4 separate regions of the Homo sapiens genome follow, and all the other regions are reported to be linked to region 1. Evidence: microRNA targets listed by miRTarBase, many of them from high-throughput screens and not tested one by one. Region 1 holds a microRNA gene; each other region holds the end of a gene's coding sequence. Distances are from middle to middle.

Region 1 (5,069 bases):
TCCTTCCGGCCTCACCTTGAGCAGACCCATGTGCACGAGCAGCCTGGTGAGGAAGGTGTTGGAGTTGAAGGACGAGGAGTTGAAAGCCTTCTGCATCAGGGCATCTGTAGGGCAGAAGCAGCAGGGGCAGGCTGCTGGCTATGGCAGAGGGCTGGGCCAAGGCACCCAGGGTTCCCCCAACACCGCGCAGACACAGGCTCGCCTGCCTCCTCGCCCTGACGAAGAGGCGAACACGAGAGGGACGGCAGAGACACAGGAACCAGAGGGAGTGGCAGTTGGCATCAGGGGATGGGCTCAGTCCATCTGCCAGCTGTGACACTCTGGCCCTTGCCCATCCTGGCCTCAGGTATAAAATGGGCATGGGGATGACACCCACTGTGCCCACCTCACACCGTGGGAATGGAGATTTCCTGAGGCAGGCTACCACTGGGGAGGATTCAGGTTATTTTGGCAGGGTGAGGGGATGTGCAGGGACTGTGCTAGGCTTCCTGGGAAACAGAACTAGGGCAACTTGTTCCCAAAAATGCCCACAGGCGGGCCCTCAGGGAGCAGGCTTGTGTCTGGCCCCCACCTCCTTCCGAGCCTCATTTCCCACTGAGCCGCCCTCCCCGCTTCGACGCCACGCCGGGAAGAGGCACCACATGTCCTTCCACCCCTTTCTATCTTTTCCAGGAACCGTCCCCCTCGCCTCAGGGCCCTTCCTCCCCTCTGCCTAACCGGAACTGGCTCAGGTTTCGTTAGATGTGGAGGCTCAGTCAAGCACATGGAAACAGGGTGGAAGGTGACAGGTGCTGGAATGGAGGAAACAGACAGGGTGGGGAGAGGGTTGTGATAGGGCTGGAGGGATATGGGCTGGTGCTCCAAGGAAGCCCCCATAATGTTATGGGGAAAGGTGTCCTCTGTGCAAGGAACCTCCAGGTAGAGTGGACGTGAGCACAGAAGCTCCAAGGTGTGGACAAGGGCTTGGCTCTCACCATCCCTCCTCCCGATAGACCTGCGTCCATTGGGCTTGCAGATGTGACTATCTGGACTTCCTAGAGCGGGCTATGGGTTCTAACTGTACATGGCTGTGTGGATTTGGGAAAGGCCTCAGTTTCTCAGTGGTGAAAAACAGGGAGAAGAGCAGCCAGCTGGCTCCACGGCAGGACCCTGACGGAGGAAAAACTCAGGTGGCCAAAGAGCAGTTCCCATGAGAGCGCTGGGGCTGACGAGTTACGGCAACCACGAAGGATACCTGGGGCCCACGAGCATCAAGGGACAGAGGGCACCCAGGTCTCACCCAGCCCACATTACCTACTGCATCCTGCACTGCCATCCTCACAGTAGCTTCGTCCTTGAACACAGATGACACCTTTAGGAAGGCAGAGACCACCTTCTCGGGGTCAGACGTGTCAGTCTGAGGACAAAAGAGACAATGGTTGGCCTGTGGCACGTGGTGGAGAGGTACCTGGGCTCTGACGCTAGCTAGGAGAGGCCTGGGCAGTACAAAGGCCCCTGGCGGGCAAGAACAGGTCCTGCCTTACCCCATGCTGTCCCTTCAGAGTCTGGCTTGGATTTGGCCTGCAGCAAGCACATATGCAGCATAGAGAGGGAATGAATGAGTGAATGAACAAGGATGAAAAATCATCCCAGCCGGGTGTGGCGGCTCATGCCTGTAACCCCAGCACTTTGGGAGGCTGAGGTGGGAGGATGGCTTGAGGCGAAAAGTCTGAGACCAGCCTAGGCAACATAGCAAGACCCCATGTCAACAAAAAGGAAAAAAATTAGCCAAGGTTGGTGGTGTGTGCCTATAGTCTCAGCTACTTGGGAGGCTGAGGCAGGAGGACTGCTTGAGCCCAGGAGGTCGAGGTTGCACTGAGCCATGATTGCACCACTGCACTCCAGCCGGAGTCACAAAGCAAAACATTGTCTCAGAAAAAAAAAAAAAAAAATCATTTCAGGGATCCAGTGGTCCCCATCTTGTAATTGAACTTGAAGAAATAATCTAGCATGTAGACAATACTCACATGCAGAAACGTTTACCTCAACCTCACAACAGGGAAAAGTGGAAAAAACGTCAGAAACAGTGCCTGGCTTTTAAGTGCTACATCCACACATTGCAATAAAAATCCTGAGAAGAGTTTTATGGGCACAAGAAAGTGATGAATGGTGCTACACCAAAGTGATAGGCCACAGAAAGGCTTACAACATCTGATTTATCATGTTAAAAGAAACAAAGAATACAGGCAAAACCTAACAAAGCAATTGGCCGAAATGTTAAGCCAACTCTGAGAGTGGGCCCATTTTATTTCTCTGTAACCTCCGAGCCTCCGCTTTCTTATCTACAAAATAAGGGCTGGCCGGGCACGGTGGCTCATGCCTGTAACCCTAGCACTTTGGGAGGCCGAGGTGGGTGGATCATGAGGTCAGGAGTTTGAGACCAGCCTGGCCAACGTGGTGAAACCTCGTCTCTACTAAAAAATACAAAAATTAGCTGGGCGCGGGAGGCTGAGGCAGGAGAATTGCTTGAACCCAGGAGGCAGAGTCTGCAGTGAGCCGAGATCGTGCCACTGCACTCCAGCCTGGGCGACAGAGTGAGACTCCATCTCAAAAAAATAAATAAATAAATAAATAATAAAATAAAGTAAGGGCAGCAGAGTCTACATTTCATGTTGCCAAGAGGGTTAAATAAAATCATGCCCAAATGCAGTGCCTGGCAGAAAATGGATGCCCCGAAGATCATCTATGAATGAATGAATGAGCCAACCAACAAGTGAGGCTGGAGTGAGGGCACCCATCCTGCAATAGGCACGTCACTTCCAAAGGAGCCCTGGGCAACAGAGTTGTTCTCGAAGCAGCTGGGCTGACGGAACACGCAGAGAGAAGCCAAGGAGGGGGTGGGCACATGCAAGGCTCTTAAGGAAATTCCCTAACCCCAGTCAGCATGGGAACTGGCGGGCTGTACTTTCTGTAGGCTGAGTGGGGAGGGAACATTTGCAACCCCTGGAGGCTTATAAATACCCTGGACATTTGCGCGTGTTGTAACAGTGGCAGGCCAAGCCTCCCTGCCCCCAGCTGACAGCGTCGCACCCCCAGGTCTCTGAGCTGTTCGTCCCTTTTCTCTAACAGCTCCAGAAGCCACAGCACGTACAGCGTGGGGGTCGAGGGGTGGTTATTACCTGCTGGGCTATCAGCACGGAGCTCTTGGGCCCTAGGCGCAGCAGCTTCTCTGGAGAGGGAAAAGCCAGGAAGGTGGAGACGTCTGCAGGAGGTGGGGAGGACAGCACGGGAGCTGGCTCCTGGGAAGTAGGGGCACAGAGGCTCTGGAGAATTCCGGACCCCAGACTCCCCGACACAGCTGTGCCCATCCCCACACCCAGCACATCCACCCTTCACTCCAGCCCATCTAGGCTCAAAGTCTAGAATTCTTCCTCCCACTCAGCTGCATTTCCCATCTATCAATATCACCCAGAGATGCTGGCCCTGGATGGCTCTTGGTCCAGGAGCCTTTGGGGTGAGGGGGAAGCTACCTCCCTGGGACTCAAAAAACCTGCTACGGCCAAGTGGATCCTCGTCATGACATGCAGTGCCCCAGAAATGACTACGGAGGCACATGGGGGCTAAAGTGGGTCCCCGTAGAACTACAGTCCAGCCTGGGTAAGCCCTGCTAGCACCAGAGGTGCCCAGAGGAAAAACTGAATTGAGGCGAACCTAGCCATTTGTTTAATTGATTCCATAAACCAGAGAAGCAGCCCAATTCAGCGTAAGCATGGGGAGTCCTTGTCCAGAGCCAAGTTCTCCAGGAGCTTTACTTAGGAACCTGACAGGGAATGCAAATGAATGAACTGGAGGTGTGGCAGCCCTGATGCAGCCCCGGGCCAGACAAGGGACACCAAGTGCCCAAGCCAGGTCATGGCCCAGCCACCATCCCAGGAATGGGGGAGTGGTTCCTAAGGGTCACCAAGACAATCCTCTGGTGGGTGGGGAAAAAAAAAATCAGAATTTCTATTTATGCTTATTTGTTTATTCTTTCAGAAACCCTTATGCATATCTTATAATATACATAATGCAGCAGCACTGCTACCTGTAAATAGACATTTATATTGGGGTAAATAGAAATATAGGTAACTATGGCTGGGCCCGGTGGCTCAATGCCTGTAATCCCAGCACTTTGGGAGGTCGAGGAGGGTGGATCACCTGAGGTCAGAAGTTCAAGACCAGCCTGGCCAATATGGCGAAACCCCGGCTCTACTAAAGATACAAAAATTAGCCAGGCGTGGTGGCAAGCATCTGTAATCCCAGCTGTTTGGGAGGCTGAGGCATAAGAATCACTTGAACCCGGGAGGCAGAGGTTGCAGTGAGCCGAGATCACACCACTGCACTCCAGCCTGGGTGACAAGAGTGAGACTCCATCTCAAAAAAAAAAAAAAGAAATATAGGTAACTATCATTACACTGGGACCATTTTCCTTTTTTTACTCAATATCATGCAATCAAAAAAAAATGTTTGTGGCTACTGTGCTTAAGGAGACACCCCCTACCCCATTGTGAAAGTGCCTCGGGATTTCACGTTCTCAGGACCAGGGCTCTGATTGTGGCAGATGATAGAAACTCACCCCAGTGTTAGGGTCCAGAATCTTCCGTGAGGGCGTGGCTGACTTCTCTCCCTGCCCTCGCTGCTGAGGCTCTTCTTCCTCCTCCTCCTCCTCTTCTTCCTCCTCTTCCTCATCTTCCTCCTCCTCTTCTTCTGCTTCCTCTTCTTCCTCTTCTCCTTCCTCCTCCTCCTCCTCGTCCTCGTCATCACTGCAGAAAGAGCTGGCTGAAGCAGATCCTCTCTACCCAGCAGCCCAGGTTGGCTCTAAGGCCTGGCTCCATGAGCCCAGAGACCTCACCTCAGCCAGGAGGGAGAGAGCCTGGTGGGGTGGGAGCACCTGCTCCCAGGGCAGGGGCAGGTGGATCACCAGGGAAATCCATGCTGTGGACACAAAAAAATAAGATCGGCCCGGCGCGGTGGCTCATGCCTGTAATCCCAGCACTTTGGGAGGCCGAGGTGGGTGGATCATGAGGTCAGGAGATCGAGACCATCCTGGC
Region 2 (5,069 bases), not on the chromosome of region 1:
CCCGCACTTGTTCCTGCCGCGACCCTCCACTCGAATGGGCCAGTCCCTCCAGGGCCCCTGCTGGGAGCTCTGGTCTCAAGATCCTGCTTGGTGGGAAAAGCTGGGATGGCCGGAGGGTCTGGGATGAGGGGGAACGGGGCTGCCACCCACCCCGCCCTACACCAGGGGCCCCGGCAGGGCGGCTGAGGGCCTTGGCCCTACCAAGCCTGTGGGGCAGGGGTGCAGCAGGACAGGGAACAGCTAGTGGGCCTGAATGCAGAGGTCCCTCTGACCTGTCACCACACAGGGTAGACAGGAGGCAAGTTCTGTTTTTGTTGTTGTTGTTGTTGTTTGTTTCTTTGTTTTTTGAGACAGTGTCCTGTCGCCCAGGCAGCTCACTGCAGCCTTGACCTGCCAGGCTCAAGCGATCCTCCCACCTCAGCCTCCTGAGTAGGTGGGACCACAGGTGTGGGCCACCATGCCTGGCTAATTTTTGTATTTTTAGTGGAGACAGGGTTTTGCAATGTTGCCCAGGCTGGTCTCGAACTCCTAAGCTCAAGCGATCCTCCTGCGTCAGCCTCCCAAAGTGCTGGGATTACAGGCGTGAGCCACCGCACCCAGCCTAGCAAGTCCTCTCTTTTGAATCAGTTTGTCACCAACTACCTCAACAGTCAGTAATGGGCAGCCATTGGCGCTAATTTTTTTTTTTTTTTTCCCAAGATGGGGTCTTGCTCTGTCGCCCAGGCTGGAGTGCAGTGGCATGATCTTGGCTCACTATAACCTCCGCTTCCCGGGTTTAAGCAATTCTCCTGCCTCGGCCTCTGGAGTAGCTGGGATTACAGGTGCCTGCCACCATGCCTAGCTAATTTTTTTTTTTTTTTTTTTTTTTTTTTTAGTAGACGGTTTTTCACCATGTTGGCCAGGCTGGTCTCAAATTCTTGACCTCGTGATCCACCTGCCTCGGCCTCCCAAAGTGTTGGTATTACAGGTGTGAGCCACCGCGCTCGGCCTTGGCACTGACTTCTTTACACAAGTGACACAGCTCTAAGGCCAGACAGTAACTGCAGGTAACAGCCCACACCCCCCTTCTCTGGGCCTGTTTTCCAGCTGCCCAGATCTGTCTGTAGCTCTATGACTGACCCGATGATGCTACAAGGCAGCTGGGCTGAGGTGGTTCCTACCTTCCAGGCCAACAGTGCACAAAATGGGTTCCAGCCTCTGGGCGTGGGTACTGCACTGCTGGTCTTTGATGCCACAGTGGCTGTCTCAGTCCCTGCTGCAGGCTGACCCACCCAACCCCAAACAGTTCCCCTTTGGGGTGCTTGGTAATGAGGCTGATGCCCTGGCAGCTGGGGAGGCATCCTCTGTGTGCTCCCACCCACCCTCGGCCTCGGCTCATGCTCAGGGGATGAGCTTTGTGCCCAGCCGGGCTGTATCTACCTGCCCTGCTCACAGGCCTGTCATGTTCACATTCATGTCCAGCCTCCCTCCTGCCTCCCCAGACTGAGTGGTGCCCTCAGACGGAAACGCGGTATTTTCAGATAAACACCAGAGGCATGACTGATGTGGCCCTTGCCTTGTGGAGTGTGATGCAGCCGCGGTGAGACAAGTGAGCTGAAGGAATGCGGAGGGTGGGTAGCCCCACAGGTGCCAGCTACAGAAGTGGGGTAGGAAGAAGCCTTGTACCACCCCCACCAGGCGAAGCGCCCACAACGCCATTTGCCAAAGGTATGGCAAATCCGCAAGGCCCCTCGGTTCTGGGGCCAGCCCCATGTGGCCCCTGGCCTCCACCAGCCCCAGCCATGACTCCTACCGCTCTGCTCTGAAGGACACTTTCCCACCCCTCTCCTTGGGCCTCTGCGAGGCTAGGCTCCAAGGCAGGTCACAGTTGGTGCGGTGGGTAAGACAGAGCCATGGCTCCTGGTGTCAAGCCCTGGCCAGTCTGCTTCCCCCCACCCCCACATGACACAGCAGACCCCACAGGACAGAGGCTTCCCAGAAGAGGTCGCATTCGACAGGGCCTTGCACACACACCCATGCCACAGGTGGAGACACGGAGGCTTTGGTTACTCCAGGAGCTTCTGGTAGCGGAGTGCCTGGGTGCTCTGAGAGGAAGGCTGGGCAGTAGAGGTGTGTAGGGGAAACAAAGGCAGGCGGCAGGGGCTTGGAGGGGGCGGGGAATGCAGGTGCGCCAGGAGCACCAGGCCCCAGAAGCAGGGTGTCACTCCCCTCAGACCCGCCTAGGCCTGTGCTGCTCCGGCCACCTTGCCCCGGAGCTTTCTGGGCCTCCTGGTACAAATTCAGCCCACGGGATCCCAGCTGTCCTACCGACCCAGCTGCTAGGTGGTCAGTCTGGATCACAAGCTCTTGCTTCTTCCCCTTGGGGGCATGGCTCACATTTAAGAGGAAGCCAGAGGAAGGGATCCACCTCTGCAGTACCCGTGGTGTACTTGACTCAGCCCACCTCCCCCCAACCCACCCAAGGAGGCTGCCGCTGGTGACCTGCCAGGCCCTTGCCCCATCCTATCCTCTAGTGCAGGAGGGGAGGGAGGGAGATCTGGGCCCCAGACACAGGAAGTCAGCAGCAGCTGCCCAAGGGGCTCTTTGGCCCTTGCCCTGCAAGGCAGCTACCAAGCAACCTGCTGGACCCTGGTCCGACTTGGTCCAAAGACCGGAGGCCACAGCAGAGGCCTCACTCTGGGGCCTTCTACGCTTTCACCAGAGCTCAGGTCTCCCTCCAGGGGGCTCCCGTGAGCCTCGGGCAGGTCTCAGCCTTCCCGCTCAGGCTTCCTGAGAGGATGCCGGGACACAGTGAGACACCTAGTGGTTATTTCAAAAAAAGTCTTTTAATTGTTCAAAATAGCACAAAACGACATCGCACTATGGTAATATTGAGTCACAGGGGTTACTCTACAATAGTGAACGGTGTACTCTCCTCAGAAACAAATCAATAGGCGCGCGAGAGAAGGGATGGGGTAAAACAACAGGACCAGGTGAGTGGGCTCCAAGGTGACTAAACGTGACATTTTCCACAGCGAAATATACTATAATACAACAAACCAGAGGCCCTGGAGGACACAGGCTGCTGCGTCTCCAGGCAGAGGTCGGTAGGGGAGGGCTGGAAAGATTGGCTGCTCGGTTCAAATCCTTCTGACTTGCTGGCAAGCCTTGCTCCTCGACAGAAGTTTGGGGTGGGGGGCAGAAAACTCCAAGCAGATCCCCCAGCCTCGGAGCCTGGCCTGAGTTCCATGCTGCACAGCTGCTGCTGGTGGCCTGCTCCATTGCCCTAGCCTCCCTTGTGGGTGACACTACACAGTCACCCTCCCAAGCTGCCTCCAAGGACGCCTGGTTCCCCTCCATTCTCCACCCTTTCCATGACGATTTGGGGGAGGTGGAGCAGTGGCTGCGGAAACCAGCAGCCCTGTTTGGGAGGCGGTGCCGGTGGTGCTCAGGGAGGGGGCATGGGGAGAGCTGGAAATCCAGGACAAGGAGGCCCCAGCCCTCCCTCAAGCTCCCCTAGGCTCGACCCTATAGATGCGGAGTGATCGCCCATGAGGAATGAGCTGTCCTTCCTTTGTTCCAGCGGCCTGAGGACAGGCAAAAGGGCAGAGGGCAGGGGCCAGCAACAGGAAGTTGGGCTGGGTGGCAAACAGCAGGCCCCTCGTGGCAGATTTCACACCTCTCCTGCCCTGGCTGGCCCCAGCTTTTCCTCCAGAAAGATCCCTGCCAAGAATTAGCCAAGAAGAAAAAAGTAAAAAAACAAAAACAAAACAAAACAAAACAAAAAAAAGAGAAAAGAAAAAAGATTACACATTCTGTACACAGCTAACAACAACAAAAAAGGGACAAAACCCCACACGCTAAAATTACAATGAAAGTGTGAACTTCACCAATTGCAACCTAAAAAACACAACAAATGCAGCAGTTGGCAGTGCGGCCTGCAGGGAGGTCTGCACAGGCGCTGCCCAGGCCGCCGCGGGGCTCCTTGCCCCTTTTTTCTTTTTCCTTCTTTTCTTTTTTAAAATGGGAAAGAAGAGGGGGAGGGTAGAAGAGGTGGGAGCACAAAGGCCTCTGAGAAAATGTGTAAGCTTCCTGTGGGGTCACTGAGCAGGGTGGGCCGGGGGAGCCTGAGGAAGGGAAGTTAGGTGACTGGAAACACAAGGGGAAGAAAAGAAAACAGAACCAGACACCCAGGCCAGGGTGCCAGGAAAGCCACTCTGGGGAGGGCCAAGAGGGACGCCTTTCCTCCCCTCCATGCCTGCCCCCGACCTGGCCCTCAGGAACGCACAGCCTTGGGAGGGCGGAGCTGGCTGTCCTCAGCTCCGCCTTCCCTCCCCGCAAAAGTCTCTCCCCAGGGTGGGCGGCAGCGGGGAGGAAAGGAAGCGCGCTCCTCTCTCTGCTTTCCCATCTGCCTCTGCTTCCTCCCAACAGCAATGGTAAAATGTGCTTTCTTTAGATTATTTTAAAAACAGAGAGAAAGAGAAAGGGGAGAGGAGTGAACAGCGGCTCGCGAGGGTGAAGTGCGAATGCTGGGACGGGGTGGGAGGGGTGGGCCCTGGCGGGTGTTCCTGAAGCAGGGGGGTCTGGAGAAGAATCCAGGGGCTAGTCAGCTTCCTCTCACTGACCATCGGCCTTAGATTTCTTTGGAGCAGATTTCCTTGGAAGGCAGAAAAAGGAAAGAGAAAGTTAGTGTGGGCCCTGCACCACTGGAGGCCCTGCTGGTGCAGGGCCGGTTAGGGGCCCCCAGTCATTTGACAAGAGGCTGAACCCAGCTATTTCCACCCCTAGTCTCAGAAGGTTCCCGAGAGGGGCTTCCTGCTTACATTTCTGGAGAGGACATGGGCCGCTTGTTGGCTGGCTTGGTGCCAGAGCTGTCTTTACTGGTTTCTGGAAGGAACGGGAGAGATGCGTGAGCAGCATTGTGACAGAACGAGAGCAAGGAACACATGCGCCCTGCCCGCCTGCAGAGTCTCTTGGTGCCACATGGCATGACCCGCAGCTGGCAAGGGTGGGGCGCCTGCCCTATGGGTGGTCACCTTTTACGCCACTCCTTGGGACCAGAACACGACACCACTCACTCCCCTCTGGAC
Region 3 (5,069 bases), not on the chromosome of region 1:
GCATTTCACTGTCCTGCCAGTGGCATTGGCAGTGACTTTCTGATCCCAGGATCCTGTCTTTGGGTGGCAGCTTCACCATTGTGTCCTCATGCTCAGCCTTTCCAGTGGTGGCCTCCTGGCTTCTGTCTTTCTGACTGTGAGAGGTAGTAACTCCCCTGGCAGTTCTATGGTGTTCTAGGAGTCATTCCTAATACCCAGCCCAGGGACCAGCATTTTCTTCAACAGCAAGAGTGGTTTCTGTTTCTAAACTTAGACTGATTCATTTAGTCTCTAGAAGTGGTCATGCCTCCTCCCACTATAGGGTTGTTTTACTTGCTATCCCTCTTGCCTAGGTTAATACCCTTGCCATCCCTTAATCCCCAGCCCCATCTCTCGATTAACTCCTTTTATGTCTTTTCCATCTCAGTTCAAACATTTTCTCTGATCCTTAAGACTGGATCAGCTTTGCTTGTTAAACAGGGATCTCACCCTGTATGTTTCTTTTAGTGCATCATCGTCTGTAATTATGTACTTGTGTGACTCTAGAATCTGAGCTTCAGGGACTTGATTATCCTGCTCCATGCTGTGTTCCATCGCTTAGAAAAGGCCCCTATAGAGTTGGCGCTTAACAGGCATGTGTTGAAAGAATGAATGGAATGGAGGAGGCCTGATTGGAGGCTCTGAGGACAAAATCCACGTTTTTAAATATGGCTGGTAAGCCCTGTGACACCTCTTCTCGGCGTTTTCTCCCAGCCACATCTTCCCCTGACTCTTGGCCAGTCCGAACACGCTGTGTGCTCTCTGGCCTCCAGGCCTCTACATCTGCTATTTCTGCTGCTTGGCTGTCTCTTCACTCTTAGCCTGGTTCTTACTCATCTTGCAGGTTTCAGTCAGGACGTTTTCTCTTCTAGGGAAACCTTTACTTCAGACAATTCTATACAGGACAAATGTTGGCTGGGTGCGGTGTCTCACGCCTGTAATCCCAGCACTTTCAGAGGCTGAGGCAGGTGGATCACCTGAGGTCAGGAGTTCGAGACCAGCCTGGCCAACATGCTGAAACCCCATCTCCACTAAAAATACAAAAATTAGCCGGGCGTGGTGGCACGTGCCTGTAATCCCAGCTACTTGGAAGGCTCAGGCACATGAATCGCTTGAATCCGGGAGGTGGAGGTTGCAGTGAGCCAAGATCATGCCACTGCACTCCAGCCTGGGCAACAGAGTGAGACTCTGTCTCAAAAAAAAATTGTTAAATATATGATTGTAAACATTGCCTACTGTTACTTATCTGTACCTTCCATTGCAAGTGCACTGTCTTGTTCAAGGCAGCCTATGCAGAGGGCCTTGCATGGGGCCCAGCTCTAATGCCCTCCGTATTTGTTGAAGTGGAATGAATCAATGTCCCCTAGTCAACCAGCCTCAGTCCGGGCATCTCTGCACACTTTCCAGGAGCCCAAAAACAGTGAAGAATTGTAATTTGAGGGCTGCTTGATCAGGAAAGGAAGCTGGGGGAGGTTTGTTCAGCTCCAGCCCCTGGCTGTCCCTGGGCCACCAGGCAGGAGGCCTTGAAGCAGATCCTGTGGGGGATGGGCAGGGAAACAGTTTCTTCCTCTCCTCCCTCCTGGAGAGTGGGGGGATGGGGCCAGGAGAGGGAAGGTTCCTTCAAGGAGGCTCCCTGGCACAGTGCCTGCTTTGAGGAACGGAGTGGAGAGTATGGTGAATGCAGGCTTTCTCCTGGCCCCTGGCCTCCAGCTCTGTGAGAGGGAGGGAAACCGCTGGCAAAGACGGGAAAGAGGGATGGGAGGGAGGGGAGAGTCTGCTTGCTTTGGGAGACAAGGAGAGGGGTTGAACTGGCTCTGAAAGACAGGATTCCCAAGAGCCTACCAGGTCCCAACTCCAGATCAGCTCTGGAAATATCCTCAAATCACTGAGTCAGAGTCAATATACTGGGAACGTTTAACTCTCAGGATCAGATCATCCTAGCATCACCAGCTGGAAAATCCTTCAGAGAGTTGTATCTGGGGTCTGCAGGGTATTGGACCTGAAGTCCAGGGACCTTGACCCTATTCTGCCTGCAGGCCCAGTCTCCAGTGGGGGCTAACTTGGAGAAGTCAGCTCCCTGGATCCCGCTTTTTCAACAGCTGGAAGAAATGGCATTTTCCCAGAACCCAAGAATATTTTGCATCCCATCCACAGCGCGCGCTTACAGTAACAGAAAGACGAGGAAGCTGGCAAACCACCTCTCTTTCCCACAGGTCTGTAATCTCCCTGAGGGCAGGGTTCAGCTCACACATCTTATACTCTGGTCTCAAACCTGGCTGCCCATCAGAATTGCTTGAGGATGATTAACTAAAATGTTTCACTTCCTCTAACAGTGATTCTGATTTATTGGAACTGTGTTAGGACTTAAAACCCGTTTTAACAGTGTGCTGATTGTGATGCAAAGGGACCGGCACAACGTAGTAGGTGCTAAGTGTTGCCTGCAGGGGTGGGAAATGTATTTAGCAAGGTAAACAAATGGAGTGTAGGGGAAGTGGGATTGAAATACGGTCTGGAGCTGGGTAACTGTGCATCTAACACTTTGAAAGGAAATAGTGCACCAGTTTTAGCAATACAAAAGATAAATATTTATTCAGAACAAAACTTTTAACAATCAATTTTACATTCTAAGCCACAAGGAAATAGCAAAACATATAGCAAAGGAAAAGCAAACACTAAAAGAAAAGCAGTGTACTGTCTTTTCTACTGGATAACACTTAGTTGGCCCATGACCTCTCGCTTGGCCTATCTCCCAAGTACATTTTAGAGTTAACAGCTCACTCATAATTTTGGGTTAAAATCCATCTTTCTCCTGAGAATCAGGAGTTGCACATGAGCTCCAGCTAGCTGCTTCTCTAGGGTTCGTAGCTATTGAGGCTAAGGTGCAAATGTAAACCTTTGGTAGGTTTCTTTACACAGGGGCACCCCCATTTCTCACTGGTGGCAATGAATGGGGAAGGGGTAGGGCCTCCAAAGGACCTGGCACACTGTAATCCAGAAGTGGTGCCCCAGGGAGCAACGAATGCACCCTGGAGTGTGGTCCTTGGTCCGTTCCGTATCTCCCAAGTATTCAGAAGCCCCTCCTTAAAAACCTTCTCTTTCTGCTCCCTCCTCCAGGTGATTTCTCAGCATTCCTCTGGGCTGATCATTCTGGAGAGATCAGACTTTCTGGGCCCTCAAGTGTTGAGGAAATTGTTGTGAAGTGTGAGAGGTAGTGGAATGAGCACCGGGCTTGGGGTCAGGGGACTCTACTATAGGCTGGCTCTGGCACCAGACAGCTATGTGATTTTCACCCAGTCATTTAACCTCTTTGGGCCTGTTTCATCTGCTGGAAAACCAGGGAATTGGTCCAAACCAACTCTCAGGTTCTTTCCAGCAGGAATATTCTAGATTCCATGATTCTATAAAAAATGGCTTCTGAGCCACCAAAAGAGCTGTCATGAAGTCCATGCATCTTTGTGCCATAAGAGAGGCCCTTGGCCACCATTCAGAGCTTATTGATTCAGATTATATACACTTCTAACAACACTGGTTTCACAAATTCTCAGACCACGTAGATTAAAAGCAGCAAATTAAATGAGGGAGGGGAAGAGCTGCAAAAGGTAGACACTCTGATAGAAGCCACAGTCAACAATGTTTTCAATTCAGCAAACACTGATGGAGTGCCTACCACGTGTTGGGCCCCGTACCTAGTGCTGGGGCATAAAGATGAGCAAGGCAGCCCAAAGGGTGAAAATCCAGGGGAAGAAAAGGTATGGGGCGGGGAGGGCGGGAGGGGGGCAAGGAGAGAGAGAAAAAGTACAAGAAACAAAACAAATACCCAATAGAAAAACGAAAATAAAATTTTAAAAGGGAGGGGCAACACATCTGCACGCTACAGTTCTCCGCAGTCGTTATTGGTGACAGAGTCACCAATTCAGAACAGGCTGAAATGGAGTAAACTCGGTTTAAGAAGGCATAGAGAGATGTCTCTTGTAGGTTTTAAAAAGATCTCCTTCAAAAACGATAAAAAATGGTTTAAAAAAAAGTTTTGGCACTTAAGAGGGATAAGCTGGCTGTGTGTTCACCCTGGCAGGCAGGCGGGTGTTTAGTGCCCGGCCACGCCGGTTAGCTGAGCTGCCACGGAATTGTGCACTGCTTTGGGACACTGGGCAAAGGCGTGTCCTCGCTTGCCACAGAGGTTGCACACGATGCCCTTCCGGCAGTAAGGGCTCAGGTGCCCCTCCTCCCCGCACCTGAAGCACCTGTCCTGCGTGCAGCTGCCGCTCATGTGGGTCCGGGAACCACATTTAAAGCATGTCTTGGGCTGCCCCTTGTACCAGCTGTAGCCCCTCTCGGCCCCCAGGAAGAAGGCCCCTGGCAAGTGCCTGACCCCGCCCTCCCCCTGGCGCAGCTCGATCTCGCATTTGTACTCCCCGGTCCAGATCCCAAACCTGTCGGTCACTTTCACCGGCACGGCCAGCACGTCGCAGTGGCGCTTGAGCCAAGTCACAATGTCCTCCACGTCCACCGTCTCGTTCCGGAAGAGGATGAAGAGCGTCTTCAAGCTGGACTTGCTCCGCCCCAGCACCACAAAGTTCTCCCAGCAGTCCTCCTGCTCCCGCTTCTCCTCGTAGACGCGTAGGAACAGGGCCAGCTTCTCCGCTGAGCGGAAGCTCACGTCGAATTCGCGGCTGCCCGGGATCTGGATGACCGCGTAGATGTCGCTCGGGTCCATGCCGATGGAGCGCAGGATAAGCGCTCCTACCACGAAGTCCCGGGTCGGGCAGGCGCCCTCGTCTCCCTGGAAACAGATGCGGACGAGGAAGCGACCCTTGCCCGGGCCTGCCGCCGCCGCCGGCTCATCCTGGAGGGGCCGCTCGGCCGCGTCCTCGGCCTCGCCGGGCCTGGCCGGGGTCGCCATGGCGGCCGCCGCCGCCTCGGCCTTCTTCCTCCTGCCCGCCTCCGCAGCGCCCTTCTTTTTGCGGGGGTCCACCGCCTCGCCGGCCGGATCTCTCCGACGGCCCTTCGGATCCCCGCGGCCAGCCGGTGGGAAGTCGCCGAGGTCCGGCGCC
Region 4 (5,069 bases), 12 Mb from region 1:
CAACTGGTGGCCTAGCCCATGTCTGTTCCCTGGCCTCAGTTTACCCAGCTACCAAATGGGGATGACTCAGGGCACACCTCCACCCCAAAATGAATAGAAAAAGAAGCAGCCTTTCTATGAAGCATTCACTGCATCTAAACACTTCCTAAAGGAGGTGGGTGTGGTTATCCCCACCTGACAAAGCAGGAAGCAGAGGCCCTGAGTGCTCTCCTTGGGCTGGGGGGCTGGTAAGTCCTGGCGTGAGGCACCAACCAATCTGCAGACCCCCTTTCCCACAGCTCTGCAGCCAGATACCAGGGTGGATTATACCTGGCAGAGCGTGCCCGGTTCTGCCACCCCCTAGAGGGCCAAGGGGAGGTGGGCACCTCACATGAACCCCTCTAATGTGGCCTCTCTCCTTCTTCCCTCCGGCAGAACCAGAGCTGGGGTCTGGGGCGGGCCCTGCCGGCACAGGCACCCCCAGCCTCCTTCGGGGCAAGAGGGGCGGACATGCAACCAACTACCGGATCGTGGCCCCCAGGAGCCGGGACGAGAGAGGCTGAGGGTGGTGGCGGCCCCTGAGGCAGACCAGGCCAGGCTTCCCCTCCTACCTGGACTCGGCCAGCTGCCTCCAGGGACCGCCCGTCCATATTTATTAATGTCCTCAGGGTCCCTTCTGCCATCTAGGCCTTAGGGGTAAGCAGGTCTCAGTCCTGGCACCATGCACATGTCTGAGGCTGAGCAAGGGCTGAGAGGAGAGGCTTGGGCCTCAGTTTCCCTCTGTGAAGTGGGGGGAGGCAGGCCTTCAAGGAGGGATAGAGGTACAAGGCTTCGTCTCATCTGCTGTCTGAGCATCCAGGCCCAAAGGCACTGAGGGAGTCAGGAGCTGGGGCTCGGCACATGCAGAGATGACAGGGCAGGGGGCAGTCTTCCTCCCCCTCCCCGACCAAACCTCGGGGAGCCCTCCTGTGCCCCTCCCTCCTTGTTGTCCAGTGCTGGGCTCCCCACCCCGAGGTCAGGCTGCCCAATCCTCTGACTGGATCACCGGGGGCTTCTTGCCTCAGTTCTTCCCTCTGAGCCCCCAGGCCCTCCCGCATCTCAGGTTGGGGATGGGGACATGGAGAGGAAGGGGCCGCCTACTCCTGCAAATGCTTGTGACAGATGCCAGGAGGTAGATGTGTGCTGGCCAATAAAGGCCCCTACCTGATTCCCCGCAGCTTGGTCTCAGTGTGTGCTTAGATGGGGGCAGCTGGGAATGAGGCTACGACGGAGAGGGCTAGAAATGGGCGGTGGAGAATGCTCTGTGCTGGAGGACAGAGCCTCCTGGAGGTATAGGCTGCAAGGTGCAGGGCCAGGAAGCCTGTGTCTCTGGACATCAGGGAACAGCTCTCCCACAACTGGTCATTCATTTGGTGCTCACTCATTCATTCATCCCCCTGATGCCAACACAGAAGAGTCAAACACAACTGCTGCCTCCAAGGAGGTCCAGGTTGAAAAACAAACTGGTTTTTATTCTAAACACGTACTAGGGCAGCATGCTGGGGGGCCTCTCCTGCCTCCAGAGGTGCCCCTGCTCCCCACTGTGGCCCTCTTTAGACAGAGTAGGAGCTCGGGCTACCCACATGCAGCCCAGCCCTTAGCACCCAAGGGCCTGCCTGTGCCCCACTCTCTGCCTGGGCTAGGGAGGCCCAGGACCCTCGGAGTGGGCAGGCCCACCCTTTCCATGGGTCACCAGGGTCTCAGTGCCCACTTGTCCTCCAACCAACAGTGACACGGCACCCTCCACACGGCCTGTGGCTGCCAGTGCCACCACCGCCTGCTCCGTAGGGAAGCCCATGCGCTCCAGCTGCTGCAGCCTGTTGGGGGTGGGGGGAGAAGTGGGGAGTGTCAGGGCCACCCCGGCCCCTATACCAGGGGACCCCACCTCTGCCCACCCCACCTTACCGCAGAGAGGAGACAGAGGACTTGGACAGCCATGGTGCGCTCTGGGGTTCCTGGGCTGGCCCGTCAAGAAGCGAGGCCTGGATGCCCTCCTGCAGCATCTGCTCATCCAAGGCCGCCCACATCGGAGTCCCTGGGGAGAAGCTGGCCCCAGCCCAGTCCAGGCCTGCCTCTGAGGAGCCCTCCCAGGTGGGCTGCACAGGCCTCAGGCTTGGTGGGGGCAGGGCTGAGTCTTCCCAGTGGGACCAGAGGTCAGGGGAGGCCACATAAGGCGGTCCAGGGATGGGAGGCCTGGAGGAGTGGGAAGAGAAGAGGGCCTGACTGGCAGCCCTGCCACAGTGCCCACCACCTGGACTGGCATCCCCCCCATCACCCTCACCTCACTCCGGCAGGATGGGTGACAGGCAGCTCCGCCAGGCTACCCGGGGTGGCAAGGAGCCTCAGGGGCCAGCACCCCGCCAAGGTCCTGCACAAGACGCCCTCCTGCAGCACCTGCAGCCGTCGCTCTGAGGGTTCCAGCCACCGGAAGGCCCCAGCTGCATCTGTCTGCCCGGGGCAGGGCGGCCGGTCAAGGAAAACCAAAAGCAGCCAGGGGTGGGCCCACGCCACAGGCCAGGCCCCATGCCAAGTGTGCTGGCCACCATTCCCTCCCGTCTCCTCACTGTGGACCAGCATGGAATAGCGTCACCCTGGTCAGCAGCAGAGGCTCAGAAAGGAAAAGGGATCTGCCTGAAGCTACTCAGCCAAACAGAGCCAGGTATGCCTCACCCCAAGGCCTGGGCTCACCCGTGACCCACTCTGTTCCCAGAACCCTATGCACCTTTTCAGGTCTGTAACTCAAGACCCACCCGTCCTGGAAGAAGTCCCATGGACACACCTGCTATTGCCTTCAGACAGGCCTGGATAACTCCTGTCACCAATCCAGAGTGCAGAGGCCAGCCTGTTCTCTCCAGTGGCACTGTTTTCCCCGATAGGTATGAATCATCTTAGGGCTGGACGCAGTGGCTCACAGCTGTATAATCCCAGCACTTGGGGAGGCTGAGACGGGAGGATCACTTGAGGCCAGGAGTTCAAGACCAGCCTGGGCAACATAGACCCCGTCTCTACAAAAAATTTTTAAAATTAGCTGGACGTGGCAGTGCACACCTGTAATCTCAGCTACTCAAGTGGCTGAGGCAAGAGGATCGCTTGAGCCCAGGAGTTTGAGGCTGTAGTGAGCTATGATGGCGTCGCCACACTCCAGCTTGGGTGACAGAATGAGACCCTGTCTCTAAAAATTAAAAAAAAAATCTCAGAAGCAGAACACCAATAAAGAGTGCTCTAGCACGACTTATTTATTTATTTATTTTTGAGACAGAGTCTCACTCTGTCACCCAGGCTGATATGCAGTGGTGAAATCTCGGCTCACTGCAACCTCCAACTCCGAGGTTCAAGCAATTCTCCTGCCTCAGCTTCCCGAATAGATGGGATTACAGGCACGTGCCATCACACCTGGCTAATTATTTTGTATTCTTAGTACAGGGTTTCACCATGTTGGCTAGGCTGGTCTCAAACTCCTGGCCTCAAGAAATCGGCCCACCTCAGCCTCCCAAAGTGCTAGGATTACAGGCGTGAGCCACTGCACCCAGCCTCTAGCACCATTTATTAAAAAGAATATTCTTTTCCTCATTGAATCGACTTGGCACTCTTGTCAAAATAAATTGACTATACAGTAAATCTAACAGTTTATTTCTAGATGGTCAATTCTAGTCCATTGATCTGTATGTCTATCCTGATGCCAGTACCACAATATCTTGATTATTATAATTTTGTACGGCTTTTTTTTTTTTTTTTTTTTGGAGAGAGTCTTGCTCTGTCGCCCAGGCTGGAGGGCAGTGGTGCAATCTCAGCTCACTGCAACCTCTCTCCTGGGTTCCAGCAATTCTCCTGCCTCAGCCTCCTGAGCAGCTGGGATTACAGGCGTGTGCCACCACACCTGGCTAATTTTTGTATTTTTAGTAGAGATGGGGTTTCACCATGTTGGCCACGCTGGTCCTGAACTCCTGACCTCAAGTGATCTGTCTGCCTCGGCCTCTCAAAGTGCTGGGATTACAGGTGTGAGCCACCGCACCTGGCCACTTTTGTAGTTTTAAGTTTTGAAATTGAAAAGTGTAAGTCTTCCAGGTTTGCTTTTCTTTTTCAAGATTATCTGAGGTATTCTGGGTTCTTTACATTTCCATATTATTTTTAGGACCAGCTTGCTAATTTCTGCAACAACAACAAAGACAGCTGAGATTTTGATAAGAATTGTGTGGGATCTATAAATCAACTGAGTAGCATTACCATTTTAACAATATTAAGTATTCCAATCCGTGAACATGAGATCTTTCCATTCACTTAGGCTTTTAATTTTCTTTTTTTTTGAGAGGAAGTCTCGCTCTCTCGCCCAGGCTGGAGTGCAGCAGCGCTATCTTGGCTCACTGCAGCCTCTGCCTCTCGGATTCAAGCAATTCTCCTGTCTCAGTCTCCCAAGTAGCTGGGACTACAGGCGCCTGCCACCACGCCTGGCTAATTTTTGTTTTTTGGGGTTTGAGACCGGAGTCTCACCCTATCGCCCACGCTGGAGTGCAGTGGCATGTTCTCGGCTCATTGCAGCCTCTGCCTCACAGGTTCAAGTGATTCTCCTGTCTCAGTCTCCCAAGTAGCTGGGACTATAGGCGCCTGCCACCACGCCTGGCTAATTTTTGTTTTTTGGGGTTTGAGACCGGGGTCTTGCCCTGTCGCCCAGGCTGGAGTGCAGTGGCATGTTCTCGGCTCATTGCAGCCTCTGCCTCACAGGTTCAAGTGATTCTCCTGCCTCAGTCTCCTAAGTAGCTGGGATTACAGGTGCACGCCACCACGCCCAGCTAATTTTTGTATTTTTAGTAGAGATGGGGTTTTACCATGTTGGCCAGGCTAGTCTCGAACTCCTGACCTCGTGATCCGCCCACCTTGGCCTCCCAAAGTGTTGGGATTACAGGCATGAGCCATCGCGCCTGGCCTAATTTTTTTATTTTTAGTACAGATGGGGTTTCACCATGTTGGCCAGGCTGGTCTTGAACTCCAGACCTCAAGTGATCTGCCCGCCTGGCCTCCCAAAGTGCTGGGGTTACAGGCGTGAGCCACTGCGC

What was found. The annotated mature microRNA hsa-miR-6889-5p reads UCGGGGAGUCUGGGGUCCGGAAU and lies in region 1 at 3,310-3,332, opposite strand. An mRNA with a match to its seed (bases 2 to 7 or 8) in the 3' UTR can be bound and repressed. Matches are read on the target gene's strand: a 7mer-m8 pairs with bases 2 to 8, a 7mer-A1 pairs with bases 2 to 7 and ends in A, and an 8mer does both.
Region 2: the mRNA of HCFC1 is a reported target of hsa-miR-6889-5p. Seed matches in the 3' UTR shown: 7mer-m8 at 4,347-4,353.
Region 3: the mRNA of ZCCHC3 is a reported target of hsa-miR-6889-5p. Seed matches in the 3' UTR shown: 7mer-m8 at 3,776-3,782.
Region 4: the mRNA of EMID1 is a reported target of hsa-miR-6889-5p. Seed matches in the 3' UTR shown: 8mer at 918-925.

What each region holds. Positions count from the first base shown.
Region 1 is chr22:41,249,714-41,254,782 of GRCh38, forward strand. MIR6889 (microRNA 6889) reads right to left here and starts at 3,337; the gene lies at 3,279-3,337. It overlaps RANGAP1 (Ran GTPase activating protein 1), which reads right to left. Exons shown (of 16, transcript NM_002883.4): 11 at 4,595-4,781; 12 at 3,159-3,278; 13 at 1,294-1,396; 14 at 16-104.
Region 2 is chrX:153,944,751-153,949,819 of GRCh38, forward strand. HCFC1 (host cell factor C1) reads right to left here. Exons shown (of 26, transcript NM_005334.3): 25 at 4,803-4,866; 26 at 2,807-4,636. The coding sequence ends at 4,597. Among named protein-coding and RNA genes, the nearest start is that of RENBP, 2.6 kb to the left of the region's middle. RefSeq lists enhancers at 45-808, 2,975-3,514 and a silencer at 76-135.
Region 3 is chr20:297,832-302,900 of GRCh38, reverse strand. ZCCHC3 (zinc finger CCHC-type containing 3) reads right to left here. Exons shown (of 1, transcript NM_033089.7): 1 at 2,580-5,069. The coding sequence ends at 4,103. Among named protein-coding and RNA genes, the nearest start is that of ZCCHC3, 2.8 kb to the right of the region's middle. RefSeq lists silencers at 1,402-1,696, 4,888-4,957.
Region 4 is chr22:29,258,403-29,263,471 of GRCh38, forward strand. It overlaps EMID1 (EMI domain containing 1), which reads left to right. Exons shown (of 15, transcript NM_133455.4): 15 at 415-1,195. The coding sequence ends at 542. It overlaps RHBDD3 (rhomboid domain containing 3), which reads right to left. Exons shown (of 7, transcript NM_012265.3): 5 at 2,300-2,462; 6 at 1,924-2,211; 7 at 1,470-1,835. The coding sequence ends at 1,658. Among named protein-coding and RNA genes, the nearest start is that of RHBDD3, 7.0 kb to the right of the region's middle. RefSeq lists enhancers at 1,194-2,048, 2,049-2,902.